Regions from separate parts of the Homo sapiens genome. Here regions 2 and 3 are each linked to region 1. The links come from fine-mapping of genetic effects on gene expression. A gene starts in region 1. Each other region holds a variant in brackets. All regions are shown on one strand. Distances are from middle to middle. Region 1 holds the start of DENND5A (DENN domain containing 5A). Region 2 has its middle 18 kb from the start of WEE1. Region 3 overlaps DENND5A (DENN domain containing 5A).

The links. PIP is the estimated chance that this variant, and not a neighbour inherited with it, causes the effect.
Region 2: its variant is the best candidate, but not a certain one, in a credible set for the expression of DENND5A in whole blood (INTERVAL, PIP 0.88).
Region 3: its variant is the best candidate, but not a certain one, in a credible set for the expression of DENND5A in whole blood (TOPMed, PIP 0.50).

What each region holds. Positions count from the first base shown.
Region 1 is chr11:9,260,911-9,271,609 of GRCh38, reverse strand. It overlaps DENND5A (DENN domain containing 5A), which reads left to right and starts at 6,260. Exons shown (of 23, transcript NM_015213.4): 1 at 6,260-6,649. The coding sequence starts at 6,541. RefSeq lists enhancers at 5,959-6,028, 7,109-7,228, 7,389-7,728 and silencers at 6,309-6,408, 6,459-6,818, 10,688-10,699.
Region 2 is chr11:9,549,955-9,560,653 of GRCh38, reverse strand. No RefSeq gene overlaps it. Among named protein-coding and RNA genes, the nearest start is that of WEE1, 18 kb to the left of the region's middle. RefSeq lists a cis regulatory region at 8,228-8,856. The variant A/C (reference allele first, on the strand shown) is at 5,180.
Region 3 is chr11:9,234,418-9,245,116 of GRCh38, reverse strand. The region is part of intron 1 of DENND5A (DENN domain containing 5A); the gene reads left to right. Among named protein-coding and RNA genes, the nearest start is that of DENND5A, 26 kb to the left of the region's middle. The variant A/G (reference allele first, on the strand shown) is at 4,587.

The DNA.
Region 1 (10,699 bases):
TTTTTTTCTTGCTCTTGTTTTGTTTTATAGCTGCATAGTATTCCAGCGTTGGCAGAAACTATAGTTTCTTTAATCTGTCTTCTATAGCTAGGCATTTGGATTGTTTTCAGTTTTTTTGTTTTGTTTTGTTTTGTTTTTCCTGCAAGACGGAGTCTTGCTCTGTCTCCCAGGCTGGAGTGCAGTGGCACGATCACTGCAACCTCTGCCACCCAGTTTTAAGCGATTTTCCTGCCTCAGCCTCCTGAGAAGCTGGTATTACAGGCGCGAGCCACCAGGCCCAGCTAATTTTTGTATTTTTAGTAGAGACGGGGTTTCACCATGTTGGCCAGGCTGGTCTCAAACTCCTGACATGGTGATCTGCCCGCCTCGGCCTCCCAAAGTGCTGGGATTACAGGTGTGAGCCACCACGCCCAGCTCTGTTTTCAGTTTTTGCTGTTACAAACAGTAATTATAACAGTTTTTGCTGTTACAAACAGCAAATTATGTATATTTGCAATTATATATACTTGATCCAAGATATATGTCAATACCTCATTCAGGTTTTCAAAACGGGGTTTGGCTCTGTGAGTGGATCTGTGTGGACCTTTCCTAAGGATTCATTCCCTCCACTCTTACTTAGACTGATCTGTTGTGATCATATTCTCCCTTCTCTCTAGTTTGGTGTTGCTTTTGCAAGGTATAGACTTGCAAGATATAGCCCTGCTGTTCGTGCATTCCTTCAAGGCAAGAAGCAAGACTGGAGGGAGTAATAAAAAGGCAAGTAATCTCCTGTCTCTTCAAATTGATGGTTTCAAAACACTTGTTGAGGCAGGGTTCAGTGGCTCACACCTGTAATCCCAGCACTTTAGGAGGCTGAGGTGGGAGGATCCCTTGAGCCTAGGGGTTCCAGACCAGCCTGGGCAACATGGTGAAAACCCATCTTAATTAAAAAAAAATTATAATTAAATGGCCGGGTGCGGTGGCTCACGTCTGTAATCCCAGCATTTTGGGAGGCCGAGGCAGGCGGATCAGGAAGTCAGGAGATCGAGACCATCCTGGCTAACGAAGTGAAACCCCGTCTCTACTAAAAATACAAAACAAAATTAGCCGGGCGTGGTGGCGGGCGCCTGTAGTCCTAGCTACTCGGGAGGCTGTGGCAGGAGACTGGCGTGAACCCGGGAGGCTGAACTTGCAGTGAGCCAAGATTGTGCCACTGGACTCCAGCCTGGGCGACAGAGTGAGACTGCATCTCAAAAAAAAAAAATTATAATTAAAAAAAGATGACAAGTCAGTTGGGTATATAAAGCTAGAGTCCGGGGGTAAATTCCAGTTAGAGTTAATATATGTAAAGTTCTTAAAACAGTGCTACGTGTTTCTTTTTAAGCTGTCAGATTGTGTCACTCCTTTGCTCAAAACTCTCCGGTGATTTCTCATTTTATTCAGACAATGGCAAAATCTTTCCAGTGTGCCTACAAGGCTCTCCATGATTTATCCTCTTACCCAACATCTACTTTGGTGATGGTTAATACTAGCTGTTGTAACAAATAAACCCCACAGTACCAGTGGCTTCACACAACTGAAGTTTATTTTTTGTTCACAGGACAGTCCGGTGTGGGTATTCTTGGTCAGCTGGAGCCTTTCCTCCATGTGCTTTACCATTACTTAGAGCCTCAGAATCTTCTAATTCTAGCTGGTAGAAGGCAAAAATAGAAAGAAGGGAGAAGTCTAATCTGCTTCTTAAGTGCCCTGACCTAGCAGTGACATACATAAAGTCCTACACACATTCCATTGTTGAGAACTAGTCACATGGCCACATCTGGATGCAAGTAGGGCTGGGCAGTGTCCCTGAGGAGGCGGGTCCACACACTATGGAAGGGAAAATTGATGTTTTTGAATTGCAAGCCAACTCCACCACACCTTCTACCATCTTCCACCAATCCTCCCCACCCTAACCCTCTCCAGCCACCCTGGCTTCCTTATTGCTCCATGAACACTCCAGGCACACTCTGCCGCACACCCTCTCCTGGAGTTATGTTCCCTCAGATGTCCACTTGCTCTCTCATGTTCCTCATGCTAAAATGGGTGTCCCAGATTGCCACTTATTAAAAGTATATTATGTCCCAGATTTTAAAAATTCCTTTTTCCATTAATTTATGAATCTTCAGTGCAATTCTGTGAGGGGTCAGAATGACTCTTCTCATTTCAGAGTGTTTAACTGATGTACCCCAGCTTACACAGCTAGTAAGAGTGGGAGTGGATTTAAACATTAAATCTTCACGCCTGTAATCACAGCACTTTGGGAAGTCAAGGTGGGCAGATCACCTGAGGTCAGGAGTTCGAGACCAGCCTGGGCAACATGGCGAAACCCCGTCTCTACTAAAAAAAAAATTAGCCCGGCATGGTGGCGCAGGCCTGTAGTTCCAGCTACTCAGGAGGCTGAGGCAGGAAAATAGCTTGAACTCGGGAGGCAGAGGTTGCAGTGAGCTGAGGTTGTGCCACTGCTCTCCAGCCTGGGTGACAGAGCGAGGCTCTGTCTCAAACAAACAAAAAAACATTAAATCTTGGCTTGGCGCAGTGGCTCACGCCTGTAATCTCAGCACTTTGGGAGGCCGAGGCGGGCAGATCACGAGGTCAAGAGGTTGAGACCATCCTGGCTAACAGGGCGAAACCCCGTCTCTATTAAAAATACAACAAAATTAGCCACTACAGGTGGCGGGCACCTGTAGTCCCTGATACTCGGGAGGCTGAGGCTGAGAATGGTGTGAACCTGGGAGGCGGACCTTGCAGTGAGCAGAGATCACCACTGCACTCCAGCCTGGGCGACAGAGCGAGAATTCATCTCAAAAAACAAACAAACAAAAATACAAAAAAAAAAAAAAATTAGCCAGGCATGGTGCGCGCGCCTGTAGTCCCAGCTACTTGGGAGGCTGAGGCAGGAGAATCGTTTGAACCTGGGAGGCGGAGGTTGCAGTGAGCCGAGATGGCGCCACTGCACTCTAGCCTGGGTGACAGAGCGAGACTCTCTCAGAAAAAAAAAAAAAAAAAAAAAGAAAAAATCTTAAGAGCATCCCTTTCTATATTTTCTGACTCTCTAAGAAGCAATCACTCTGCCAAACTTATTTCCTACCGGGAAGGAGATCACTTCACAGTTGAGTATTCTGGGCTTCTGAGCAGTTACATTTCCCAGGGCAAATTAATACAGTTATGCATTCGTTTTTAACTTGTGTTTTACGAGTTGAGTTAATATGAGAGGTCGTCTAGCACCAGATCACCCTGGACACCTTGGATAAAAAGTTTCTGGACTTTTCAGTTGAGGACGTTTATTCCTTTCTCAAATTTCTTTTTCCACATCACCCCTAGAGTGATCATTCTCAGATTTGGGTCAGATATCACTCCTTGGCTTGAATTCCTTTACTTTACCTCACTCATCCTCAACTCATATATCTTATAGGATAAATTATTTCTAAAAAATACTATTTATTTATTTATTTATGACAGGGGTCACATTATGTTCTCCACTCTGGTCTCAAACTCCTGGGTTCAAGCAGTCCTCCTGCCTCAGCTGCCCAAAGTGTTGGGATTACCAGCGTGAGTGTGAACCACGACGCCTGGCCGAGGATAAATTCTTTAGCCTGGTATTTGAATCCATGCCTCCTTCCTCTGTTCTCCTTCTTCCTCCCCTGCCCTGGTTTCATTCCCTTTAAACTCTCCATCTCCCATCTTAATGTTAATGAATTACTTGTTGATGCCTGAACATACCCTTTTATCTGTTGCTCCCTGTTGTTACACATACTGAGTTAAACATCTTTCCCTGCCCCTTTTTACCTGAGAAACTTCCTGTTGATCCTCTGGAACTCAGGTCAGAGTATATACCTCCTTCTGGAAACCTTCCCTGACCATTCCCCAATCTGGAAAGATGTCCTCCTTCTGTGCTCTGTAACTTTCTTTTTTTCTTTTTTTTTTTTCAGGGTGTCTCTGTTGCCAGGCTGGAGTGCAGTGGCGCCATCTTGGCTCACTGCAACCTCCACCTCCCGAGTTTAAGCAATTCTCCTGCCTTATCCTCCTGAGTAGCTGGGATTACAGGCACCACCATACCCAGCTAATTTTTATAATTTTAGTACAGATGGGGTTTCACCATGTTGGCCAGGATGGTCTTGATCTCCTGACCTCGTGATCTGCCTGCCTTGGCCACCTAAAGTGCTGGGATTACAGGTGTCAGCCACCACGCCTGGCATATTTATTTATTTATTTATTTATTTATTTAGAGGTAGAGCCTCATTCTGTTGCCCAGGCTAGAGTGCAGTGGCACGATCTCGGCTTACTGCAACCTCTGCCTCTTGAGTTGAAGCGATTCTCCTGCCTCAGCCTCCTGAGGAGCTGGGACTAAAGTTGCCTGCCACCACACCCTGCTAATTTTATATTTTTGGTAGAGATGGGATTTCACCATATTGGTCAGGCTGGTCTTGAACTTCTGACCTTAAGCGATCCGCCAGCCTTGGCCTCCCCAAGTTCTGGGATTACAGGTGTGAGCCACCACGCCCAGCCTCTGTGACTGTTTAACTCACTAATCCCCCTCTACTGTCTCTGTGTCCCCAGCATGCAGGATACGGGTGGAGCATCACCATGAATGGGCGTTTTGAAGCAACCTTCTCCTCCCCACTTTTCTCCCCCTAGTTCAGGCAGGTTAGATACAGGGAGGAACAGGTGCTATGGCTCCGAGAGACAATGGCTATAACCTCTAGGTAAACCTCCCCAAGGGAAACAATATTTGAGAGAAGTACCCAGGAGAACCTAGGAGAGAGCCTAGGCTCAGCCTTTGGGGAAGCCAGCTGCCTTCTACAGCTCTTAGTGGCAGCCTCCCAGAACAAACCGTAAGAGTACTTCCTTCTGGAACAATAATAATAATCCAGGCTGGGGGCTCATTGGCTCATGCCTGTAATCCCAGCACTTTAGGAGGCAGAGGAGGGCGGATCACCTGAGGTCAGGAGTTCGAGACCAGCCTGACCAACACGGTGAATCCCTGTCTCTACTGAATACAAAAAATTAGCCGAGTGTGGTGGTGCGCGCCTGTAATCCTAGCTACTTGGGTGGCTGAGGCAGGAGAATCACTTGAACCTGGGAGGCAGAGGTGCAGTGAGCCGAGATTACGCCATTGCACTCCAGCCTGGGCAACAAGACAGAACTCCGTCTTGAAAAAAAAAATCTGTAATATTTACTGAGTGATTTCCATGTTCCAGGCAGTATTCTCATTGTTTTACCTGTACTTGCATTTACCTTATGTAATTGTCTCAAAAACCATGACGCCAGGCACTTAGAGATTAACTTGCTCAAGGTCAAAAGTAAATGATCGTCAGGATTGAAATCCGAGCATTTTTTTCTAGAGCCCATGCTAGTGACCACTATACCTGTGTTGCCTTTCTGGCCTCTGATCTCCAGTTTCCAACAAAGACACATCTGCCTAGCTTCTATGGGAAAGGAAATCGGAGGGTCCTAGGACAAGGACCAATAGGTAAGTTTCCCTTCGCCTCCTCCCTATCCTCTTACAGGAAAACAGGTTTAGGGGTGGATCTGAGAGTTTTCACAGAGTGAAGAGGAAGAGGAGCTCCCAAATGGCAGGCGCCTCTGGAGGCTTCCAGAGAAAAAAGGAGAGAGCGTGGGAAAAGGGCAGGCTGGGAGGTGGGAGCGGCGAGGAACGGGGAGCTGACCACAAGCCCAGGATTCCAGACCAGGCTTATGTCTCTTAGACTCAGCGTAACCTTGGATAAGTCCTTGCTTCTTTCTGAGACTCAGTTTCCCCGTCTGTAAAATAAGGGTAAATATAAAACCGGCTCATCCGCCCCTGCCAAAAGAGAGGACAGGGAGAAGGCCCTGTCTGGGGTCTAGGCTGACACGCTGCAGCTAGGATTAGGTGAGCTTCCGAGCTCAGTCGTGAGACCCCATCCTCATGGCAAGGCCGCGCTAAGATCTCTGGACCTCTGCTTGCTGGGTGGGTGGTTGGGGGCAGAGCATGGGCCAAATGCCCGGCTCTGCAGGCTGCGCCCACTCTTCTCGCACCTCCTCAGCCCTCCCTAAAGGAGTCTCAATCCCGGGGGAGTGGCAGTTGCGGGCGACCAAGCAGTCACCGGCTGCGCTGCGGCGACCTCCCGGGAAGCTGCGGCCGGCGGGGTCCGAAGAGCATCACGTCATCCTTTCCCCCAGGAGCCCGCCCCCTCCCAGACGGCGCCTGCGCAGGCGCGGTAGGAGGAGGGTCACGGTGGGGGCTGTCCACGCGCTCTCCGCCCTTCTCCAGGCTCGCTCGGGCCGCGGCGCTCTCGGCTAGCTGCAGCGGCGGCGGCGCGGAGGGGAAGGCATCCAGGATGCGGTGCGGGGCGGCCCGGTGCCCCCCCGCCCCGTCACGGCAGCCGCGGCGGCCGAGGGGACCGGGCCAGGGCCGGGGGCGGCGGCCCGAGCCGCGGTAGCGGCGGCGGCGGGAGGGGCGGCCTGAGGGCGGACGGGCGGGCGCCCGGGTTGCGGGGGCTCGGTGCCGCTCCGCACTGCCCGGCCGGTCTCGGCCCCGGCGCCATGAGTGGCGGCGGCGGCGGAGGGGGCTCGGCGCCCAGTCGCTTCGCCGACTACTTTGTCATCTGCGGACTGGACACGGAGACCGGGCTGGAGCCGGACGAGCTGTCGGGTGAGTGCGCGCCGAGCCCGGGGCGCTTTCCCGCGCCCGCTGTCGTCGGGGACCCCAGAAGAAACCTTCCTTCAGCCCCGCTTTGTCCCGGGAGCCGGGCGAGTGTCGGCCGGGAGGACCAGGGCGGGCGCGGGCGAAGGGGGCTTTGGACTGGAGGGGGGAAACGGATGAGGGGCTCTGAGCCATGAGGGGTCCAAACCTACGGCCCGCTGCGCAGTGGCCACGTCTTCGGCGACCAGAAAGAGGGAGGGTTGTGTGTTCTCAGTTTGGTGTAGGTTGAGTGACTTCGTTTAAAATAAAGGAAAGCTTGTCCTCTGGCACCCATTAGGGAGGGAAGGCGTCCCACGTCCTAGTGAAAGTAAGTTCCACCCAGACTTAAAAAAAAGGAAAACAAAAACTTGGTGAGTTTATCTGGCCACTTCCCAAGAAGCTTGTGATACTAGTTCCTCAAAACCGTTATACCCCAGCCCTGGGCTGGGCCCCCTGAGTCAGATTGCAGCTCTGCGCGTCTGGATGGGATATGAAGTAATAAAGTGAACTTGGGCGGCACCAAGAAGAGTAGGAACTCCCTTAGCCTTGGAAAGGGCTTGTATCCCGGGGCCATGCCTTTTTTGAAAAGTAATTTATGTCCTTTATGAGGACAGAGGCGTTTGTGAATAAAAGGGTAGCAGCATTGTAGTTGGAGAGGCTTGGTGTGTTCTGATGCGTTTCAAGTCATATTTGAAAGGGAAAGTGATGAGGGGAGTCAAAGATGGGGCCCTGACCAGATTTGGCACTCACTGCAGAAGGCCGTGAAAATTATACAGTCCCCGTGAATTTTCCACTGCACTGTCATTGGAGTCTTTGAATTGTAACAGTTTTGAAAATAAGTTTTTGTCTGGAGTTTCCAGTTAGTGGGTTTCAAGTGGGTGGAGGTTTGTCGGGTTGTACTTTAAGGTTGTGTCATCCTGATGAGGGGGACTCCTTTTCACTTTTCTGTCACTGTAAAGTTTCTCTTTCGAAAGTGATTATCCTGTTGACTAATCTTACTCGGCTTCAACGATGACAAGACAGTTTTGTTTTTGGGCACCAGAAAAAGTCCAGTGTTTCTTTTTTTTTTTTTTTTTTTTTTTGAGACGGAGTCTCGCTCTGTCGCCCAGGCCGGACTGCGGACTGCAGTGGCGCAATCTCGGCTCACTGCAAGCTCCGCTTCCCGGGTTCACGCCATTCTCCTGCCTCAGCCTCCCGAGTAGCTGGGACTACAGGCGCCCGCCACCGCGCCCGGCTAATTTTTTGTATTTTTAGTAGAGACGGGGTTTCACCTTGTTAGCCAGGATGGTCTCGATCTCCTGACCTCATGATCCACCCGCCTCGGCCTCCCAAAGTGCTGGGATTACAGGCGTGAGCCACCGCGCCCGGCCCAGTGTTTCTTATGAAAAAAAAATTAGGCGGGGCGCGGTGGCCCACCACCCGGCGGCTCAGGGGTAATCCCAGCACTTTGGGAGGCCGAGGCGGGCGGGTCACCTGAGGTCAGGAGTTCGAGACCAATTTGGCCAACATGGTGAAACCCCCGTCTCTACTAAAAATACAAAAATTAGCCGGGCGTCGTGGCGCGTGCCTGTAATCCCAGCTACTCAGGAGGCTGAGGTAGGAGGATCGCTTTAACCCAGGAGGGGGAGGTTGCAGTGAGCTGAGATTGCGCCAGTCTGGGTGATTGCGCCACTACACTCCAGTCTGGGTGATAAAGCGAGACTCTGTCTGGGAAAAAAGAAAAAGAAGAAAAAAGCATGATAAATTCATGCTTTAACAAGGTTAGAAAAAAATGAGCTATTTCCTCAATAGCAGGTGGAGAAAATATGAAGCAGTAATATAATTAATATTAGGCTTTTTGTCGGGGTAGTTTTATGGTTTCTAATTTACTTTAAAAAAATTTTAGTTTTAGGCCGGGCGCGGTGGCTCACGCCTGTAATCCCAGCACTTTGGGAGGCTGAGGCGGGCGGATCACGAAGTCAGGAGATCGAGACCATCCGGGCTTACAGGGTGAAACCCCGTCTCTACTAAAAATACAAAAAATTAGCCGGGCGTGGTGGCGGGCGCCTGTAGTCCCAGCTACTCAGGAGGCTGAGGCAGGAGAATGGCGTGAACCCGGGAGGCGGAGCTCGCAGTGAGCCCAGATCGCGCCACTGCACTCCAGCACTCTAGCCTGGGCGACAGAGCGAGACTCCGTCCAAAAAAAAAAAATTATTTTGATGAGTACCTAATAATTGTTCAAGTTTATCTTTTAAGGTCTTCAAATTCTTATAGTACAGATGTTTTTCATCTTTTTCATATGTAGTAAGTTTGTGACTTTGATGTAATTTTTGGAATTCGGTTCAGGGTATTGGTGTTGGAAGGGACCTCAGAGGGGAAAATGAGGCCCAGGAAGGACAGTGGGGCCTGTATACACTAGTTAATTGCTTGGTCCAGTGCTCTTCTCATGACATTAAACTGCATCTCATTGGCCTGGCTGGAGGTCTTTAGAAAACACTAACATGTTGAGAAATATTAAAAACAACATAATTCTTCTCAGTAAAAGAAACTAAGGTGGTGGAATAAACTTTTTTTTATGCGTGTTTTTGAGTGTCAAATTGTATGAACACTTGGTTTGAGAAGATAGAATGTTTTGCGAATGATAGAGCATAAGAATGAAGCTGGGAAGTTAACTGTTAGCGAGAGCATGAGTTTAGGGTAATATTCCTGCTCTCCTATTGACTATCTTTGTGATTGGGAGCAAGTTAGAGATAACCCTGTCAGGGTCCTCATCTATAAAAAAAGAATGTAAATAAAAATAATCTCATCAAGTAGACCTTCAAAAATGTTTAAAAACTGTCTTTCAACATTTCATTAAAAAAGAAATGTTACTGTCTTAATGGATATGTGTTAATTATCTGGCTTTTTGGCAAGCTAAAATTATATCCTTGTGAAAGTTTATTGGGATAATAAAGAAAGGGGGATGAGTTGTATAAAATGTGTAAAGAGGGGTATTTTCTGTTTTTTTAAAAATGTGGTTGCAGTAGTGGAATGCCGAGACCACATTTCCGATAGGTGGCCTTTGTTAGAGTATGCAGTGTTGGAAGGATTTTTTTTCCCTCTTCATTTCATTTCTGGTGGGTTGGTAGGGGAATCTGAACTATCCAGAGGGAATCTTTTTTTTTTTTTTTTTTTGAGACACAGTCTCACTCTGTTGCCCCAGCTGGAATGCAGTGCTGCAATAGTGGCTCACTGAAACCTCCGTCTCCCAGGTTCAAGCAATTCTGCCTCAGCCTCCCGAGTAGCTGGGATTATGAGCCGCGCGTGCCACCACATCAGGCTAATTTTTGTATCTTTAGTAGAGATGGGGTTTCACCATGTTGGCCAGGCTGGTCTTGAATTCTTGACCTCAAGTGATCTGCCCACCTCGGCCTCCCAAAATGCTAGGATTACAGGCGTGAGCCACCACTCCCAGAGGGAATCTTTGAATAAAACAAAGCAGAGTACAAATAGCAGGTTCTTCCTGAGAGTCTCCAGGGTGCATTTTCTCTCCTCAGCCTGCCTTGTAGCTCCCAAACTGATGATATCATACTCAGTAACTAACTACAGGAAATTGTAATTTGTAGCCAGGTTCTCCAAGAAGGTATTAAGGAGTCTCTAAGAAGGTGCACTCCACACAGTTAACTTACATAGCTCAGGTAGCATCTACATTCTTAAAAAGTGAACCCAGAATAAGCAAATCAAAGATGCTCGGTGTTCCTTCTTGTTTTGTGGAGAAAGGTTAAGATTCATTCCTCTCTGTCTGCAACAAATAAACATGGAGGCTGGGCGCAGTAGCTCACACCTGTAATCCCAGTACTTTGGGAGGCTGAGGTGGGTGAATTGCTTGAGCCCAGGAGTTTGAGACCAGCCTGGGCAGCACGGCAAGACTCTTATCTCTACAGAAAGTACAAAAAATTAGCTGGGTGTGGTGGCATGCACCTGTGGTCCCAGCTGCTCAGGAAGCTGAGGTGAGAAGGTCACTTGAGTCTCAGAGGCAGAGGTTGCAGTGAACTGAGATTG
Region 2 (10,699 bases), 290 kb before region 1:
AATTAGCTGGGCATGGTGGCACATGCCTATAATCCCAGCTACTCGGGAGCCTGAGGCAGGAGAATCACTTGAACCCAGGAGGCAGAGTTTGCAGCGAGCTGAGATCGTGCCACTGCACTTCAGCCTGGGCAACAGAGCAAGACTCCATCTCAAAATAATAATAATAATAATAATAATAATAATAATAATAATTACAACAACTTTTCAAGACATAGTACAATAAGATAGAAACAACAAAAAATTAAAATGTGGGGAGACAAAGTTAAAGTTTGTATTAGTTTTTATTAGTTTCCTTTTTGTTTATTAGTTAGTTTACACAATTAGTGTTACATTGTCATCAGTTTAAAATAATGGGTTATAAGATATTATTTGCAAGCCTCATGGTAACCTCAAATCTAAAAATATACAATGGATACACAAAAAATAAAAAACAAGAAATTAAAACATACCACCAGAGAAAATCACCTTCACTAAAAGGAAGACAGGAAGGAAGGAAAGAAGGAAGAGAAGACCAAAAACAACCAGAAGACAAATAACAAAATGGCAGGAGTAAGTCCTTACTTATCAATAATAACATTGAATGTAAATGGACTAAGCTCTCTAATCAAAAGATGCAGAGTGGCTGAATGGATTTTTTTTAAAAAAGACTCAATGATCTGTTGCCTACAAGAAACACACTTCACCTATAAAGACACACATAAACTGAAAATAAAGGGATGGAAAAAGATGCTTTATGCAGATGGAAACTAAAAAAAGAGCAGAAGTAGCTGTGCTTATAACAGACAAAACAGATTTCAAGACAAAATCAAGGCTGGGTGTGGTGGCTCACACCTGTAATCCCAGCACTTTGGGAGGCCGAGGCGGGCAGATCACCTGAGGTCAGGAGTTCGAGACCAGCCTGGCCAACATAGTGAAACCCCATCTCTACTAAAAATACAAAAATTAGCCTGGCATGGTGGCACACACCTGTAATCCCAGCTACTCAGGAGGCTGAGGCAGGAAAACTGCTTGAACCCAGGAGGTGGAGGTTGCAGTGAGCTGAGATTGCACCACTGCACTCCAACCTGGGTGACAGAGTGAGACTCCGTCTCAAGAAAAAAAGACAAAAACTATAAAAAGAGACAAAGAAGGTCATTACATAATGATAAAGGGGTCAATTCAGCAAGAGAATATAACAATTGTAAATATATATGCACCCAACACTGAAGCACCCAGATATATAAAGCAAATATTATTAGAGATAAAGAGAGAGACAGACTCCACTACAATAATAGCACAAGATTTCAACACCCCACTTTCAGCATTGGACAGATCATCCAGACAGAAAATCAACAAAGAAACATCAGACTTAATCTGCACTATGGATCAAATGGACCTAATAGATATTTATAGGACATTTCACACAATGGTCACAGAATAGACATTCTTCTCCTCAGCACATGGATCATTCCCAAGGACAGATCATATGTGAGGCCACAAAACAAGTCTTAAAGCATAAAAAAAAAAAATAATATCAAGGATCTTCTCTGACCACAATGAAATAAAACTAGAAATCAATAACGAGGAATTTTAGAAACTATACAAACACATGAAAATTAAACAATATGCTCCTGAATAACCAGTGGGTGAACTAAGAAATTAATAAGAAAATTTAAAAATTTCTTGAAACAATAATGGAAACACAACATATCAAAACCTGTGGGATACAGTGAAAGCAGTACTAAGAGGGAAGTTTATGGCTATAAGTGCCTACATCAAAAAAGATAAAAAGTCTGGGTGTAGTCGCTCATGCCTGTAACTCCAGCACTTTGGGAGGCCAAGCTGAGCAGATTGTTTGAGCTCAGGAGTTTGAGACCAGCCTGGGCAACATGGCAAAACCCCATCTCTACTAAAAATACCAAAAAAATTAGCCAGGCACGGTGGCACATGTCTATAGTCCCAGCTACTTGGGCGGCTGAGGCATGCGAATTGCTTGGACCTGGGAGGCGGAGGTTGCAGTGAGCCAAGATTGGCCACTGCGCTCCGGCCTGGGTGACTGAGTGAGACTCTGTCTCAAACAAACAAATGAACAAACATACAAACTTCAGGTAAACAACCTAATGGTGTCTCTTAAAGAACTAGAAAAGCAAGCACAAACCAAACCCAAAGTCAGTAGAAGAAAAGAAATAATAAAGACCAGAGCAGAAATAAATGAAATTGAAACAAATAATACAAAGGATGAAAACAAAAAAATCATTTTTTGAAAAGACAAATAAGGCCGGGCGTGATGGCTCACACCTGTAATCCCAGCACTTTGGGAGGCTGAGGTGGGGGGGATCACAAGGTCAGGAGATCGAAACCACGGTGAAACCCCGTCTCTACTAAAAAATACAAAAAATTAGCTGGGCCTGGTGGTGGGCGCCTGTAGTCCCAGCTACTCGGGAGGCTGAGGCAGGAGAATGGCGTGAACCTGGGAGGCGGGGCTTGCAGTGAGCCAAGATCGTGCCACTGCACTCCAGCCTGGGTGACAGAGCGAGACTCCGTCTCAAAAAAAAAAAGAAAGAAAGAAAAGATAAACAAAATGACAAACCTTTAGCCAGACTAAGAAAAAAAGAGAGAAGACCGAAATAAATAAAATGAGAGGTTTTGAAAAGGGAGACGTTACAACTGATACCAAGAAATTCAAAGGATCTTAGGTACTACTATGAGTAAGTATATGCCAACAAATTGGAAAACCTAGAAAAAAATAGATAAATTTCTAGATACATGAAACCTACTGAGTTGAACCATGAAGAAATTCAAAACTTTAACAGACCAATAGTAAGTAACAATTTCAAAGCCAAAATAAAAAGTCTGCTGGCAAAGAATAGCCTGGGGCTCAATAGTTTCACTGATGAATTTTACCAAACATTTAAATAACTAATACCAATCCTACTCAAACTATTCAAAAAAATTGAGGAGGAGGGAATACTTTCAAACTCATTCCATGAGGCCATTATTACCCTGATAGCAAAACCAGACAAAGACACATCAAAAAAAAAAAAAAAAAAGAAAGAAAGAAAAGAAAAAAGAAAGAAAACAACAGGCCAATATCCCTGATGAACATTGATGCAAAAATCCTCAACCAAATACTATTAGGTTGCTGCAAAAGTAATTGCGGTTTCAGACTGTAAATTTTAAATCATTATAACTAGGCTCAAACACATCTTTATTAATCAAAACAGGAAACATTACAATCAACACATTTTTGCCAGTGAGAAATCTTTATTCCTATGGTGTAAAAATCCATGCTTCAGGATTCAACAAACTCTTGGAAATCATTTTCTGCATCCTGCTGGTTGTGGAAGCGTTTTCCGTACAAAAAGTTGTTGAGATGCTTGTAGAAGTGGTAGTCAGTTGGTGAGAGGTCAGGTGAGTATGGCAGATGAGGCAAAACTTCATAGCCCAATTTGCTCAACTTTTGAAGCGTTGGTTGTGTGACGTGTGTTTGGGTGTTGTCCTGGAGAAGAATTGGGCCCTTTCTGTTGACCAATGCTGGCTGCAGTTGTTGCAGTTTTTGGTGCATCTCGTCCGTTTGCTGAGCATAGTTCTCAGATGTAATGGTTTTGCCAGGATTCAGAAAGCTATACTGGATCAGACCAGCAGCAGACCACCAAACAGTGGCCATGACCTTTTTTGGTGCAAGTTTGGCTTTGGGAAGTGCTTCGGAGCTTCTTCTCAGTCCAACCACTAAGCTGGTCGTCACCAGTTGTTGTATAAAATCCACTTTTTGTCACATGTCACAATCCGATCAAGAAATGGTTCACTGTTATTGCATAGAATAAGAGAAAACAACACTTCAAGACAACATTTTTTAAAATTTTTGCTCAGCTCATGAAGCACCCACTTATCAAGACACCTTTTTTTCACCTTTTTTTCCCACCTTTTTCACCTTTTCAATTTGCTTCAAATGCCACATGACCATAGAATGGTCGAGGTGGAGTTCTTTGGCAATTTCTCATGTAGTTGTAAGAGGATCAGCTTTGATGATTGCTGTCAATTGGTCATTGTCAACTTCTGATGGCTGGCCATACACTCCTCATCTTCAAGGCTCTTGTCTCCTTTGCAAAACTTCTTGAACCACCACTGTACTGTACATTCATTAGCAGTTCCTGGGCCAAATGCCTTATTGATGTTATGAGTTTTCTTGCTGCTTTATGACCCATTTTGAACCCAAATAAGAAAATTGCTCTAATTTGCTTTTTGTCTAACATAATTTCCGTAGTCTAAAATAAACATAAAATAAACAACAAATAATAAGTCATTAGCAAGAAAACATAAAGCGAGAAATGTCCATTAAAATGATGTATGACCTAACCACATTTATTGAAGAATGTATTCCAACATCAAACGGCAAATTCCAACAATGCAAAAACTGCAATAGTTTTGCACTCACCTTAATAGCAAACTGAATTCAACAACACATTAAAAAGATGATTCATCATGACCAAGTGAGATTTATCCCAGGGATGCAAGGACGCAAGGATGCAAGGATGTCATATGCAAATCAATCAATGCAATACATCATATCTACAGAATGAGGGACAAAACTATACTATCATTTCAATTCACACTGAAAAAGCATTTGATAAAATTCAACATCCCTTCATTATAAAAACCCTAAAAAAACCTGGGTGTAGAAGGAACATGTTTTGGCCGGGCGCGGTGGCTCACACCTGAAATCCCAGCACTTTGGGAGGCCAAGGTAGGTGGATCACTTGAGGTCAGGAATTCGAGACCGGCCTGACCAACATGGTGAAACCCCATCTCTACTAAAAATACAAAAAAATTAGCCAAGCATGGTGGCGCACACCTGTGATCCCAGCTACTCAGGAGGCTGAGGCAGGAGAATCACTTGAACCCAGGAGGCGGAGGTTGCAGTGAGCCGAGATTGCACCATTGCACTCCAGCCTCGGTGACAAGAGTGAAACTCTGTCTGGAAAAAAAAAAAAATAAGAACATACTTCAACATAGCCCTACATGACAGACCCACAGCTAGTGTCATACTCAATGGTGAAAAACTGAAAGTCTTTCTTCTAAGATCTAGAGCATGACAAGGATGCCCACTTTCATCACTGTTATGCAACATGGTACTGGAAGTCCCAGCTAGAGCAATCAGACAAGAAAGAGAAAGAAAGGGCATCCAAATTGGAAAGGAAGA[A/C]ATCAAATTATCCTTGTTTGCAGATGATATGATCTTATATTTAGAAAAACCTAAAGACACCACTAAAAAATTATTAGAACAGATATACAAATTCAGTAAACTTGCAGGAAATAAAACAATATACAAAAGTCAACATGCAAAATCAACATATATCAGTACACACAGCTATTATTGGGTTAAAAAAAAAGAGAACATAACATATAAAAATCATTTCTAGGCCAGGCATGGTGGCTCAAGCCTGTAATCCCAGCACTTTGGGAGGCAGAGGCGGGTGGATCACAAGGTCAGGCGTTCAAGACCAGCCTGGCCAACATGGTGAAACCCTGTGTCTACTAAATATACAAAAATTGTCCAAGCATGGTGGTGCGCACCTATAGTCCCAGCTACTCAGGAGGCCGAGGCAAGAGAATCACTTGAACCTGGGAGGCAGAGATTGCGGTCAGCTGAGATCGCACCACTGCACTCCAGCCTAGGCAACAGAGTAAGACTTCATCCTCCCCCAAAAAAATAAAAAATAAAAAATAAATTAAAATAAATTTTAAAATCGGCCTGTAATCCCAGCACTTTCAGAGGCTGAGGTGGGCAGATCACGAGGTCAGGAGATCAAGACCATCCTGGCCAATGTGGTGAAACCCCCATCTCTACTAAAAGTACAAAAATTAGCTGGGGATGGCGGTGTGTGCCTGTAATCCCAGCTACTTGGGAGGCTGAGGCAGGAAAATTGCTTGAACCCGGGAGGCGGAGGTTACAGTGAGCTGAGATCACGCCACTGCACTCCAGCCTGGTGACAGAGCTAGACTCCGTCTCAAAAAATAACTAACTAAAAATTAAAATTAAAAATTAAAAAATAATAAAAAATGTTTCTATATGCCAACAGTAAACAATGTGAAAAATCATAAAAGTAATCCCATTTACAATAGCTACAAATAAAATAACATACCTAGGAATTAATTTAACCAAAGAAGTGGAAGATTTCTACAATGAAAACTATAAAACATTATTGAAAGAAATTGAAGAGGACATTAAAAAAGGAAAAATAGTCCATGTTCATGGATTGGAAGAATCCATATTGTTAAAATGTCCATACTATCCAAAGTAATCTATGTATTCAATACAATACCTATCAAAATACTAAAGACATTCTCCACAGAAAGAGAAAACACAATCCTAAAATTTATATGGAACTGCAAAAGATCCAAAATAGCCAAAGCTATCCTGAGAAAAAAAACAAAAACAAAAACAAAAAAACTGGAGGAATCACATTACCTGACTTCAAATTATACTACAGAACTGTGGTAACCAAAACAGCATAGTACAGGCATAAAAGCAGACACATGGACTAATGGAACAGAATAGAGAACCCAGAAACAAATCCATACATCTAAGGTGAACTCATTTCTCAACAAAGGGGCCAAGAGCATACAATGGAGAAAAGACAGCGTCTTCAACAAATGGTGCTGAGAAAACTGGATATCCATATGCAGAAGAATGAAACTAGACCCCTGTCTTTCACTATATACAAAACTCAAATCAAAATGGATTAACGACTTAAATCTCAGACCTCAAACTATGAAACTACTAAAGAATATATTGAGGAAACGCTCCAGGACATTAGACTGGGCAAAGGTTTCTTGAATAATGCCCCACAAGCACAGGCAACCAAAGCAAAAATGGACAAATGAGATCACATCAAGTTTAAAAGCTTCTGCACAGCAAAGGAAACAGCAAAGTGAAGAGACAACCCACAGCATAGGAGAAAATATTTGCAAACTATCCTTCTGACAAGGAATTAATAACCAGAATATATAAGGAGCTCAAACAACTCTATAGGAAAAAATCTAATAATCTAATTTTATTTATTTATTTATTTATTTATTGAGATGGAGTCTCGATGTCGCCCAGGCTGGAGTGCAGTGGTGCCATCTCAGCTCACTGCAAGCTCTGCCTCCCGGGTTCATGCCATTCTCCTGCCTCAGCCTCTTGAGTAGCTGGGACTACAGGCGCCCGCCACCATGCCCGGCTAATTTTTTTGTATTTTTAGTAGAGACAGGGTTTCACCGTGTTAGCCAGAATGGTCTTGATCTCCTGACCTCGTGATCTGCCTGCCTCGGCCTCCCAAAGTGCTGGGATTACAGGTGTGAGCCACCGTGCCCGGCCTCATTTATTTATTATTATTTATTTTGAGATGAAGTCTTGCTCTGTAGCCCAGGCTGAAGTGCAGTGGTGCAATCTCGGCTCACTGCAACCTCCCCCTCCTGGGTTCAATCAATTCTCCTGCCTCAGCTTCCCAAGTACCTGGGATTACAAGCATGCACCACCATGCCCAGCTAACTTTTTGTGTAGAGACAGGGTTTCACCATGTTGGTCAGGCTGGTCTCGAACTCCTGACCTCAGGTGATCCACCCGCCTCGGCCTCCCAAAGTCCTGAGATTACAGGCATGAGCCACTGTGCCTGATCTGTATGTCTCCTTTTGATAAATGTCTATTCAGATCTTTTGCCCATTTTAAAACTGGATTGGCCGGGCACAGTGGCTCACCAAATATCTGAATAGACATTTATCAAAAGGAGACATACAGGTCAGGCGCAGTGGCTCATGCCTGTAATCCCAGGACTTTGGGAGGCCGAGGGGGGAGGATCACCTGATGTCAGGAGTTTGAGACCAGCCTGACCAACATGGTGAAACCCCGTCTTTATTGAAAATACAAAAATTAACTAGGCATGGTGGTGCATGCCTGTAATCCCAGCTACTTGGGAGGCTGAGGTAGAAGAATTGCTTGAACCTGAGAGGCAGAGTTTGCAGTGAGCCAAGATCGTGCCACTGCACTCCAGCCTGAGTGACAGAGCAAGACTCCATCTCTAAAAAAAAAAAAACTAAAAGAGTATAATTGGATTATTTATAACACAAAGGATAAATGCTTGAGGGGATGGATGCCTCATTTCCCCTGATGTGATTATTACACATTGTATGGCTGTATCAAAATATCCCATATGCCCCATAAACATATATACCTACTACATACCCTCGAAAATTAAAAATAAATTTTTATAAGTAAATTTTAAAAACTGTCAAAAAATCTGACTTCTAAGAGTTGTTGCATGGATTGAATGAGAGAACAATAAGTCAAAGTGCTTAGGTGCCTACTAAAGAGAGAGCCAGGAGGAAGGCCTTGTCATCTCTGAAACAGGATAGGGCAGACAGAATTACGACATGAGTCCTGAAGAGCCATCCCCTTGCCTTTTCTGATATACTTAGAGCTCTCCTCTCTTTCAAGCCACATATGCCTGACCCTTCCTCATTTCCTCACGTGGCTTTGTCCCTCCTCTAGCTTTGCTCTTGGGAAAGGAGCCTGTGCTTCTGTTTTTTAATCTGGTTTCTTCATCTGGAATGACCTTCCCGCCACCGTCAGACAAACAGCTTTCTGCTCTGCCTGCAGTCCGTGGAGAGGTGCTGATAAGGAAGAGGGCTTCCTGGATCCCTCTGGTTCATTGTAGCCTCACTTCAATGTGGTGCAGTGCAATGTCAAGAGCAGCGTTAAAGGCTCTGTTGTGTCTCCTCCACCAACCCCATTCTAGCCTCAGAACATTAGGATTGCTCACACACACTCTGGCTGATGTTGACTGCCATCGCCTGCCTTCCATTTAAGGTTTTTGTTTTGTTTTGTTTTTCTGAGACAAGGTTTTGCTCTGTCCCCTAGGCTGGAGTGCAGTGGCACGATCTTGGCTCACTGCAGCCTCCACCTCCCAGGTTCAAGTGATTCTCATGCCTCGGCCTCCCACGTAGCTGGGATTACAGGCACAGCCACCACGCCCAGCTAATTTTTGTATTTTTAGTAGAGATGGGGTTTCACCATGTTGGCCAGGCTGGCCTCGAACTCCTGGCCTCAAGTGATCTGCCCACCTCGGCCTCCCAAAGTGCTGGGATTACAGGCGTGAGCCACTGCACCCAGCCCCATTTAAGGTTTTTGAGGGATCCAAGCTGTAACTGTTTCTGCCCATCCCATCCCCACTCTCAGCCTCCACTACCAAGCTCTGCTGACTTTCAGGGTCCTGTGTGCTTGAAACCAATTGTTAGAAACAATTGGCTCTGTCAGTATGCTTGTCAGCCAATTGTTAGAAACAACACAGCACAGAAAAATAACCATTATAAAATAAGTGCAAATAAAAGAAATATAGAAAGAATATTCTGTGCTCTTGTATTTATTTATTTATTTATTTATTTATTTATTTATTTTGAGACAGAGTCTCCCTCTGTCGCCCAGGCTGGAGTGCAGTGGCGTGATCTCGGCTCACTGCAACCTCTGCCTCCCGGGTTCACGCCATTCTCCTGCCTCAGCCTCCCGAGTGGCAGGGACTACAGGCACCCGCCACCATGCCCGGCTAATTTTTTATATTTTTTAGTAGAGACAGGGTTTCACCGTGTTAGCCAGGATGGTCTCGATCTCCTGACCTCGTGATCCGCCCGCCTCGGCCTCCCAAAGTGCTGGGATTACAGGCGTGAGCCACCACGCTCGGCCTCTCTTGTATTAGTTCTAACAACTATTCATTTGATCATTTTGGATTTCTAGGCCGACAATCAGGTAATTGATAATAATGCTCTCATCCACTTTAGTATTTTGACTTTTATTCCATTGTCTAATTGCATTAACTAGCACTTCCAGAACAACATTAAATAACAGAGGTGGTGAGAATCCTTGTCTAGCTCCTGACTTTAATGGGGATATTAATAATAATATTGATTGGGCCGGGCGCAGTGGCTCACACCTGTAATCCCAGCACTTTGGGAGGCTGAGGCGGGTGGATCACCTGAGGTCAGAAGTTCGAGAACAACCTGGCCAACATGGTGAAACCCCCATCTCTATAAAAATACAAAAATTAGCCAGGCGTGGTGGCGGGCACCTGTAATTCCAGCTACTGGGGAGGCTGAGTGGGGAGAATCACTTGAACCCGGGAGGCGGAGGTTGCAGTGAGCTGACATCACACCATTGTACTCCAGCCTGGGCGACAGAGACTTCCTCTCAAAAAAAAAAAGGGAGGGAATTAGGGCCTTGCGTTGGCCTAAGGGAATGTTGTGGCCGGTTTGATCTATCCAGACCATTCAAACATCCTCCATATCAGCAATAAGGCTGTTCTGCTTTCTTATCTCATTTGTGTATTCACTGGAGTAGCACTTTTAATCTCCTTCAAAAGCTTTTCCCTTGCATTTACAACTTAGCTAACTAACTTTCAGCCTGTCCCAGCTTTCGACATGACTTCCTAACTAAGCTTAATTATTTCTAGCTTTTGAGAATGAGAGATGTGTGACTCTTTCTTTCATTTGAACACTTAGAAGCCACTGTAGGGTTCCAGCTGGCCTAATTTTAGTATTTTTGTGTCTCAGGAAATGAGGAGGTTGCAGTAGAGGGAGAGAGACAGAGGAACACCCAGTCCATGCAGTAGTCAGAACACACACAACATTTATAGATTAAATTCACCATCTTGTATGGGCACGGTTTGTGGCACCCTGAAACAGTTACAGTTGT
Region 3 (10,699 bases), 26 kb after region 1:
GAAACGGGGTTTCAGCATGTTGGCCAAGATGGTATTGGTCTCCTGACCTCGTGATTCACCCGCCTTGGCCTCCCAAAGTGCTGGGATTACAGGCATGAGCCACCGCACCCGGCCTGAAGCCTCTTTTAAAAGGGCCTTGGAGCCAAGCACGGTGGCTCACGCCTGTAATCCCAGCACTTTCGGAGGCCAAGGAGGGTGGATCGCTTGAGCCCAGGAGTTCGAGACCAGCCCCGGCAACACGGCGAAACCCTGTCTCTATGAATAAAGATACAAACATTAGCTTTCTGGGTTGCGTGTGCCTGTAGTCCCAGATCCTCAGGAGACTGAGGTGGGAGGATTGCTTGAGCCCAGGAAGTGGGGTTGCAGTGAGCTGAGATAGTGACACTGCACTCTAGCCTGAGTGACAGAGCCAGACCTTATCTCCAAAAATAAATAAATAAATAAAATAGGCTGAGCGTGGTGGCTAATGCCTGTAATCCCAGCACTTTGGGAGGCCGAAGCGGGCGGATCACCCGAGGTCAGGAGTTCAAGACCAGCCTGACTGACAGGGAGAAACCCGGTCTCTACTAAAAATACAAAATTAGCTGGGCGTGGTGGCACATGCCTGTAATCCCAGCTACTTGGGAGACTGAGGCAGGAGAATCACTTGAACCTGGGAGGCGGAGGTTGCGGTGAGCTGAGATCACACCATTGCACTCCAGCTTGGGCAACAAGAGCGAAACTCCGTCTCAAAAAAATAAATAAAAATAAATAAAATAAATAAATTAAAAAAGGCCTTAATCCCATTAACAAGGGAGCAGCTCTCATGGCCTAATCACCTGTTAAAGGCCTCACCTCTTCATACTATCACATTGGCAACACCTGAATTTTGGAAAGGACACATTTAAACCACAGCAGAAATACAATAGAAATTTAGGAGTATCATCTGCTAAACCAACATCCAGTTTTGCTGAACTCTGAGGTTCTGTATGTCCAAATACACTTGACTCTTGAACCAAGTTGGGGGTTAGGGGCACTAATTCTCTGTGTAGCAGAAAATCCACAAGTAACTTTTGACTCCCTGAAAACTTTACTAACAGCCTACTGCTGACTGGAAACCTTACCAATAACACAAATAGTTAATTAACACATATTTTGTATGTTAAATGTATTATATACTGTAGTCTCACAATAAAGTAAGCTAGAGAAAACATAATCATAAGGGAAATAAAATATTATTTTTTGTGTGTGTGAGATGGAGTCTCGTTCTGTCGCCCAGGCTGGAGTGCAGTGGTGTGATCTTGGCTCACTGCAACCTCTGCCTCCCAGGTTCAAGTGATTCTCCTGCCTCAGCCTCCCAAGTAGCTGGGACCACAGGCACCCACCACCACGCCCGGCTAATTTTTGTATTTTTAGTAGAGACAGGGTTTCACCATATTGGCCAGGCTGGTGTCAAACTCCTGACCTTGTAATCCGCCTACCTTGGCCTCCCAACGTGCTGGGATTGCAGGTGTGAGCCACCGTGCCTGGCTGGGAAATAAAATATATTTATCCTTCAGGAAGTGGAAGTGGATCATTTAAAAGGTCTTTATGCTCATCATCTTCACACTGAGTAGGCTGAAGAGGAAGAGGAGGAGTTGGTCTTACTGTCTTGGAGTGGCAGAGGTGGAAGAAAATCTATGTATAAGTGTACCCACACAGTTGAAACCCATGTTGTTCAAGGGTCAACCGTAGTGTGTAATCCCTTTCTTTGTTAAATATTTAATCTAATATACCCCACCCCATTTTCTCACAACATCTGTGTGAAGTACATTCTTTCCCCTGCGTATTAAAAGTAGTACATTTTGAATTTTATCTACTAGAAGAATGTTTAGTGTTTTGTGGAGGATTGTCAGTCTGCCCATCTAGCTCTGTTAACTACTTAGCTCAGTTAGTTATGAGTGTGGTGCATTTAATGAGGCCAAAGTCATTGAGTTAGTCTCCAGAAGAGCAGTTATTCCAATTAGCCTTACTCGCCTCAGTTTTTTTTTTTGTTTTTTTTTTTTTTTTTGAGACAGAGTCTCGCTGTGTCGCCCAGGCTGGAGTGCAGTGGTGCAATCTCAGCTCACTGCAACTTCTGCCTCCTGGGCTCAAGTGATCTTCCTGCCTCAACCTCCCGAGTAGCTGGGATTACAGGTGAGTGCCACCACGCCTGGCTAATTTTTGTATTTTTAGTAGAGACAGAGTTTCACTATGTTGGCCAGGCTGGTCTCGAACTCCTGACCTCGTTATCCACCCGCCTCGGCCTCCGAAAGTGCTGGGATTACAGGTGTGAGCCACCACGCCTGGCCTCGACCCCCTTTTATGCTAGCCTCAGCTGACCATCCTGCTCACTAGTACACTGTGGGTCATAGGGGGCCAAAAACATGAGGCTGGTAACATTCCATCCCTGTTATTCATAGATGATATTTAAGTTAATGGTTGTTTTTTTATTGAATACATTTCAATGCCAGGTATTAGATGGTATTATCCCCATGTTGGAGATTAGGAAACTAAAGTGCAGAGAGTTTGAATAACATGCCCGAGACTATAAAGCAAGAATTGGAAGCCTGTTCTCCCTGTCTCTAAAGTCTTCTACTTTTGTGTTATTGAAAGACCAACTTAGTGATGGGGCACTTGTTTGCAAAGATGTGTAAGTGAGACAGTCACTGTCCTTAAGGGGCTCATAGTCTTCTGAGGGGTTAGGCGTGTAAGCCAATAATGACAATGCACTGTGATAAATGATATAACGAAGGTATGTTTATAATTGAGAGTGAGTGTCTTGCAATCAGTGATTGTCTAGAAGATCTCAAAGTTAGTTTTCTCTGTTTTTTATTCCCTCCTTCAGCTCTTATTTACTGAGTTCCCGTTATTTACTAGTCACTATTTTAGGTTCTTAAGACACATCAATGAGTGAAACTGCCTTTGTGAAGCTTTGGTTTTAGTGGAGGGAGACATTGAAAAATAAACATAATGAACCAGTAATTTACATAGTATGTTAGGAAGTGAAAAGTGCTGTGGAAACAGTAAACAGGGTTAATGGGATCAGGAATGTTAGGGCAGGGTGGAGACAGATGTTGTACTTTTTTTTTTTTTTTTTTTTTTGAGACGGAGTTTCGCTCATGTTGCCCAGGCTGGAGCGCAATGGTGCAATCTCTGCTCACCACAACCTCCACCTCCCAGATTCAAGCGATTCTCCTGCCTCAGCCTCCCGAATAGCTAGGATTACAGGCATGCGCCACCATGCCCGGCTAATTTTGTAATTTTAGTAGAGATGGGGTTTCTCCACATTTATCAGGCTGGTATTGAACTTCCGACCTCAGGTGATCCGCCCGCCTTGGCCTCCCAAAGTGCTGGGATTACAGGCGTGAGCCACCGCGCCCAGCTGATGTTGTACTTTTAATAGGATGGTCAGGGTATACCTCACTGAGAGGATGACAATTTCAGGAGAATTCTAAGGAGTCAAAGGAGTGAGCCATATGTATATGTGGAGAAACGTATTTCAGGCAGAGAGAAGAGCCTGTGCGAGGGCCATAAGCTAGGAGTATACTTGATGTATTAGAATTGTTTACAATGTTACTGAGGTTGGAGGTAGTAAGTGAGGGGACAAGTGGTGGGAAGATGAGATTAGAGAGGAAGGGAGAGGGAGTGTGGGGGAAAGATGTAGGGCTTTATAGGCCAGTGGTTCTCGTTGTCTGGTCTCTGGACCAGTAGTATCAGCATCACCTGAGAACTTCTTAGAAATGTACATTTTAACCCCACCCTTTACCCGCTGAATCATAAACTCTGGGGATGGGGCCTAGAAACCTGTATGTTAACAAGCCACTGTCCTGATGCATACTAAGGTTTGAGAACCACAGTTTTGGCTACTGTAAGAGTTTTAATGTTACGCACCTACATGACTGCAAATTCTTAGGACTGATGTAGCTTTAAGTTCAGTACCCGAATAACTGTAGAGCTTTGGCTTTAGAGTCTTTCAGTTCTGGTTTCAAATTATGGCTTCCTCACTTTCTAGTTATGGGGACTTGGATCAGCTTGTGAGGATTACATGAGGGGAAGAATACACAAACATCACACACAGACATGCACATACACAGACAGAGTTACTAGGGAAGATGAGTCTCTGTCAAGACAACTATTCACATGAAAGAACTTCCAAATTTTGGACTGCTTAAGTTTAGAAGTTGAATTATTAGCTGGTTGTTAACATACCTCATACCACATCTATCAGCCACATTTTTTGTTTCTACTTGAGGTTTTGTGATCCTGTCATGGGTAGTTGCCTGTCAGGAATAAAATCAACACCTATAACCCCTATCAGGGTCTATGTTGAGTGCTAGAGAAGAGAAGGGCAGGCACACTGAAACAAGGCAGGAAAGGATCAGTTCTTCAGTTCTTTTTTTTTGTTTTGAGACAGGGTCTCACTCTGTTGCCCAGGCTGGAGTACGGTGGCACCATCTCAGCTCACTGCAAACTCTGCCTCCAGGGCTCAAGTGATCCTCCCACCTCATCGTCCTGAGTAGCTGCGACTACAGGCAGGTGCCACCAATCCTGTATATTTTTTGTCTTTTTTCTAGCGATGGGTTTTC[A/G]CCACGTTGCCCAGGCTGGTCTCTAACTCCTGGACTCAAGTAATTTGCCTGCTTTGGCCTCCCAAAGTGTTGGGATTACAGGCGAGTGCCCCTGCGCCCAGTCAGGATCAGTTTTTGTTTGTTTGTTTGTTTTTGAGACGGAGTTTTCACTCTTGTCGCCCAGGGTGGAGTGCAATGGTGCAACCTTGGCTCACTGCAACCTCCACCTCCCGGGTTCAAGCGATTCTCCAGCCTCAGCCTCAACGAGTAGCTGGGATTACAGGTGCTCACCACAACGCCTGGTTAATTTTTGTATTTTTAGTAGAGATGGGGTTTCACCATGTTGGCCAGGCTGGTCTCAAACTCCTGACCAGCCTTGGCCTCCCAAAATGCTGGGATTACAGACGTGAGCCACCACGCCCAGCCTAGGATCAGTTCTTTAAAAGGAACAGATGATGGTGTGTTGTTGGGGTTCAAGAGAGGGAAAGAGTACTATTATCTAGCTTTGCAGTTTATGTCTTGGAAAATTTACTATAGAGGGCGTAGCTCTGGGTGTGACCCTGAACAAAAACATAATCTCTATGATTTATTCATTGATTAATTTAATAATCACTTAATATGTGGAAAAATACCCGAGGGACTATACATAAATTATAGAATCTGAGGGTTGAAAGAGAGGGACACAACTAGAAAGTGAGGGAACCATGATTTGAACTCTTGGGATAGGAAAGAAACATGAAGGTCATCCATATAAGGAATGGCATTTTTCTCTCTTTAAAAATAAAACGTTGGCCAGGCATGGTAGCACATGCCTGTAATCCCAGCACTTTGGGAGGCAGAGGCAGGAGGATGGCTTGAGCCCAGGATTTCGAGACCAGCCTGGGCAACATAGCAAGACCTCGTCTCTACAAAAAATGAAAAGCTGAGTGTAGTGGTGCATGCCTGTAGTCTCAGCTACTTGGGAGGCGGAGGCAGGAGGATGGCTTGAGCCCAGGATTTCGAGACCAGCCTGGGCAACATAGCAAGACCTTGTCTCTACAAAAAATAAAAAGCTGAGTGTAGTGGTGCATGCCTGTAGTCTCAGCTACTTGGGAGGCTGAGGCAGGAGGATTGCTTGAGTCTGAGGGGTTGAGGCTGCCGTGAGTCATGATGACACCACTGTACTCCAGCCTGGGCAACTGAACAAGACCCTGTCTCAAAAAAAAAAAAAAAAAAAGTTTAGCCAGGTGTGGTGGTGTGCACTTGTAGTCCCAGCTACTTGGGAGGCTGAGGCAGGAAGATTGCTTGAGCCCGTGAATTTGAGTCCAGCGTGGGCAACGTTGTGAGGCTCCTGTCTCTTAAATAAATAAATAAATAAATAAAATGTTGAGTTTTAAAATACAGTTTCTAATAGAAAACTTAGAAATTGTAGAAGGATGTAGGCCGGGCGCAGTGGCTCACACCTGTAATCCCAGCATTTTGGAAGGCTGAGGTGGGCAGATCACCTGAGGTCAGGAGTGCAAGACCAGCCTGGCCAACATGGTGAAACCTGGTCTCTACTAAAAATACAAAAATTAGCCGGGTGTGGTGGCGTGCACCTGTAATCCTAGCTACTCAGGAAGCTGAGGCAGGAGGATCGTCTGAACCCAGGAGGCGGAAATTGCAATGAGCCGAGATCAAGCCACTGCACTCCATCCTGGGCAACAAGAGTGAAAATTAGGTGTCAAAAAAAAAAAAAAGAAAAAAGAAATTATAGAAGGATGTGGAAATAATTCACTCATTATCCCTTTATCTGGAATTAGGCTTTATAAGCATGTTGATGCCTTTATATAGTTCCTTTCAGTTAAAAAATATTTTTGGGCCGGGCACAGTGGCTCACACCTGTAATCTCAGCACTTTGGGAGGCCGAGGCGGGCGGATCACAAGGTCAGGAGATCGAGACCATCCTGGCTAACATGGTGAAACCCCATCTACTAAAAATATAAAAAATTAGCCAGGCTTGGTGGCGGGCGCCTGTGGTCCCAGCTACTCGGGAAGCTGATGCAGGAGAATGGCGTGAACCCGGGAAGCAGAGGTTGCAGTGAGCCGAGATGGCGCCACTGCAGCCTAGGTGACAGAGCGCGACTGCATCTCAAAAAAAAAAAAAGTAATTTAAAGACAGTAAAGTGCACAAATTCTAAGTATATAAGTATATAGCTTAATATATATATATACACACACACACATGCATTTAATCATCACCCAGATCAGTTCTTTCCAGATTTTACTATGTGTAGGTGTATGTGTATATATTTTAACAGAGTGATAATGTGTAATGTAAAATTTTGTTTTGACTTTTTTCACTTGATGTTCTATCATGAATATTTCTTGATACTGTATCGTGAGTATGCTCCTGAAATTCCATCGATCTTAGTTAAGAGTTAATTATAAGGAGCAGAGACCCACTCAAAAAACCCACTCAAGTTGAATTCATATCAAATTAACATGTTGTATATGAGATAACAGACAACATCTTAAAAGATGATCCCACATCAAAACAAAGATCTTTCTGGTGGACCCGTGGAGTATTTAAGATTTTTCTTTTTTCAAATATCCATGTACACTTATTTTTACACACTTGTAGGGGTTTTTCTGGAGCATTAATTGCTAAAACTGGACTTTGGTGAATCCAAGAAATGTACTTTTTTTTTGAAATGGAGCCTCGCTCTGTCGCCCAGGCTGAAATGCAGTGGTGTAATCTCGGCTCACTGCAACCTCTGCTTCCTGGGTTCAAGCGATTCTACTGCCTAAGCCTCCCTAGTAGCTGGGGCTACAGGTGCTTGCCACCACGCCCGGCTAATTTTTGTATTTTGAGTAGAGACGGGGTTTCAAGTTGGTCAGGCTGGTCTCGAACTCCTGATCTCAGGTGATCTGTCTGCCTCGGCCTCCCAAAGTGCTGGGATTACAGGCATGTGCCACACTGCACCTGGCCCAAGAAATGTGCATTTTAAATTTTAATAGATATTGCTAAATTACTTTCCTTAAAAATTGTGCCAATTTAGACCTCTGCTAGTAATGTTTAACATTCCAGTTTCTTTATACCTGTAATAAAGTGTTACCGCTTTTCTGAAACGTTTCCAATCTGCTAGGAAGAACATATCTTTTTTTCTGGAGACGGAGTTTCACTCTTACTGCCCAGGCTGGAGTGCAGTGGTACAATCTTGCCTCACTGCAACCTCTGCCTCCTGGGTTCAAGAGCTATTCTCCTGCCTCAGCCTCCCAAGTAGCTGGGATTACAGGCGTGTGCCACCACACCCCTGGCTAATTTTTTGTATTTTTAGTAGAGACGGGGTTTTACCATGTTGGTCAGGCTGGTCTTGTACTCCTGACCTCAGGTGATCTGCCCATCTCTTCCTCCCAAAGTGTTGGGATTACAGGCGTGAGCCACCGTGCCGGCCCAAACATATCTTGTTTTAATCTGAATTTAATTATTAGGCTGAACATCTTTTCATATAGTTCATATACATTTGTTTATTCTATGAATTGTCTGTTCAGGCCTTTTGTCCATATTTCTGTTGTGGTGTTTATCTTTTTTTCTGATTGATTTGTGGAAACTCTTTTTCTGTTACGAATATTTTGTTGTATGTGTTCTAAATATATTTCTGTGCATTAAAAACAGGTTGTCAGGAAATATATCAAAACTTCAAACATAGTCACAATGAAATAATATATACATACACATAATATATATTTATAAAATTGGGATCATCAGAGAAATACAATTTTGTATCCTTTGCCTGCCTGCCTGTCTTCCTTCCTTCCTTCCTTTTTGCTCTCACTCTCTCTTCCTTTTCATCTTTTTCTTTTTCTTTCTTTCGAGGCAGAGGTCTTGCTTTGTTGCCCAGGCTGGTCTCAAACTCCTGGGCTCAAGCAGTCTTCTTGCCTTAGCCTCCCGAGTAGCTGAGATTACAGGGTTGTGCCCAATGCCTAGCTTGTGTCTTCCATTTTTAATTTACTATTTAAAAATGCTAAATATTTCTTTTTTTTTTCTTTCTTTTTTTGAGGTGGTGTTTTGCTCTTGTCGCCCAGGCTGGAGTGCAGTGGTGCAATTTTGGCTCACCACAACCTCTGCCTCCTGGGTTTGAGCAATTCTCCTGCCTCAGCTTCCTGAGTAGCTGGGATTACAGGTGCCCGTCACCATGCCCAGTTAATTGTTGCATTTTTAGTAGAGACAGGGTTTCGCCATATTGGCCAGGCTGATCTCGAACTCCTGACCTCAGGTGATACGCCTGCCTCGGCCTCCCAAAGTGCTGGGATTATAGGCACGAGCCACTGCGCCCAGCGAACTTTATTTGTTTTTTTTTTTTTTTTGAGACAGGGTCTCCCTCTGTTGCCCAGGCTGGAGTGCAGTGGTGCAAACATGGCTCACTGCAGCCTCGACCTCCTGGGCTCATGTGATCCTCTTGCCTCAGCCTCCTGAGTAGCTGGGACTACTGGGCTAATTTTTAAATTTTTTGTAGAGATGGATTCTCACCTTGTTGCTTAGGCTGGTCTTGACCTCCTGGTCTCAAGCAGTCCTCTTGTCTTGTCCTCCCAAAGTGCTGAGATTACAGGTATGAGCCACTGCACCTAGCCCGTTTAAAAATGTGTAATTCAGTGGTGTTTAGTATATTTATGGTTTTGTGTAGCCATCAGCATCATGTAGTTTCAGAACATTTTCATCTCCTCAAAAGAAAATGCTGCACTCATTAAACAGTTACTTCTCATTTCCTTGTCTCCCAAGCCTGTGGCAACTAGTAGTCTGCTTTCTCTCTCTGGATTTACCTATTCTGGATGTTTCATGTAAGTGGAATCATGCAACATGTGGCCTTTTGTGTTTGGCTTTTGTGTCTGGCTCCTTTCAGGTAGCGTGATTTTTTTTCTTTTTTTTTTTTTTGAGACAGAGTCTTGCTCTGTCGCCCAGGCTGGAGTGCAGTGGCGCGATCTCAGCTCACTGCAACCTCCATCTCCTGGGTTCAAACAATTCTCCTATCTTAGCCTCCTGAGTAGCTGGGATTACAGGTGCCCGCCATCGTGCCCAGCTAATTTTTGTATTTTTAGTAGAGACAGGGTTTTACCACATTGGCCAGCTGGTCCCGAACTTCTGACCTCCAGTGATCTGCCCATCTTGGCCTCCCAAAGTGCTGGGATTACAGGCGTGAGCCACCCCGCCCAGCCTAGCAGGATGTTTTTAAGGTTCATCCATGTTGTAGCATGTGTCAGCACCTTATTCCTTGTTATGGCTGAATAATATTGTATTATTGGGATATTTATATGGTATGAATAATACGTACCATATTTTGTTCCTTCATCTGTTGATGGACACTGGGGTTGTTTCCACTTTTTGCCTGTTGTGAATAGTGCTGCTATGAACATTCATGTACAAGTTTCTGTCTGAACACCTGTTTATGTATATATCCAAGAATGGAATTGATGGGTCATATAGTAACTCTGAACTTTATAGTAACTTTAAGAAACTGCCAAAATGTCTTCACAGCAGTGCATCATTTTACATTCTCACTAGCAATGTTTCAGGTTTGCGGATGCCAGCTGGGTCAGGGAGACCCTAACCCAGCGGCGCTAGAGGAGTAAAAGACACACACACAGAAATATAGAGGTATGGAGTGGGAAATCGGGAGTCTCACAGCTTTCAGAGCTGAGAGCCTTGAACAGAGATTTACCCGCGCCTTTATTAACAGCAAGCCAGTGATAAGCATTGTTTCTGTAGGTTATAGATTAACTAGCAGTATTCCTTATGGGAAATAAAGGGATGGGCCGAAATAAAGGGATGGGTTCGGCTAGTTATCTACAGCAGGAGCACGTCCTTAAGGCACAGATCGCTCATGCTATTGTTTGTGGTTTAAGAATGCCTTTAAGCGGTTTTCTGCCCTGGGTGGGCCAGGTGTTCCTTGCCCTCATTCTGGTAAACCCGTAACCTTTAGCGTGGGCGTCAGGGCCATCGCGAACATGTCACAGTGCTGCAGAGATTTTGTTTATGGCCAGTTTTGGGGCCAGTTTATGGCCAGATTTTGGGGGGCCTGTTCCCAACAAGGTTTCCACTTTCTCCATATCCTCATTAATACTTGTTTTTCATTTTTTGCTGTCGTCGTGTTTTAATCTGTATTTCGTTGACTACT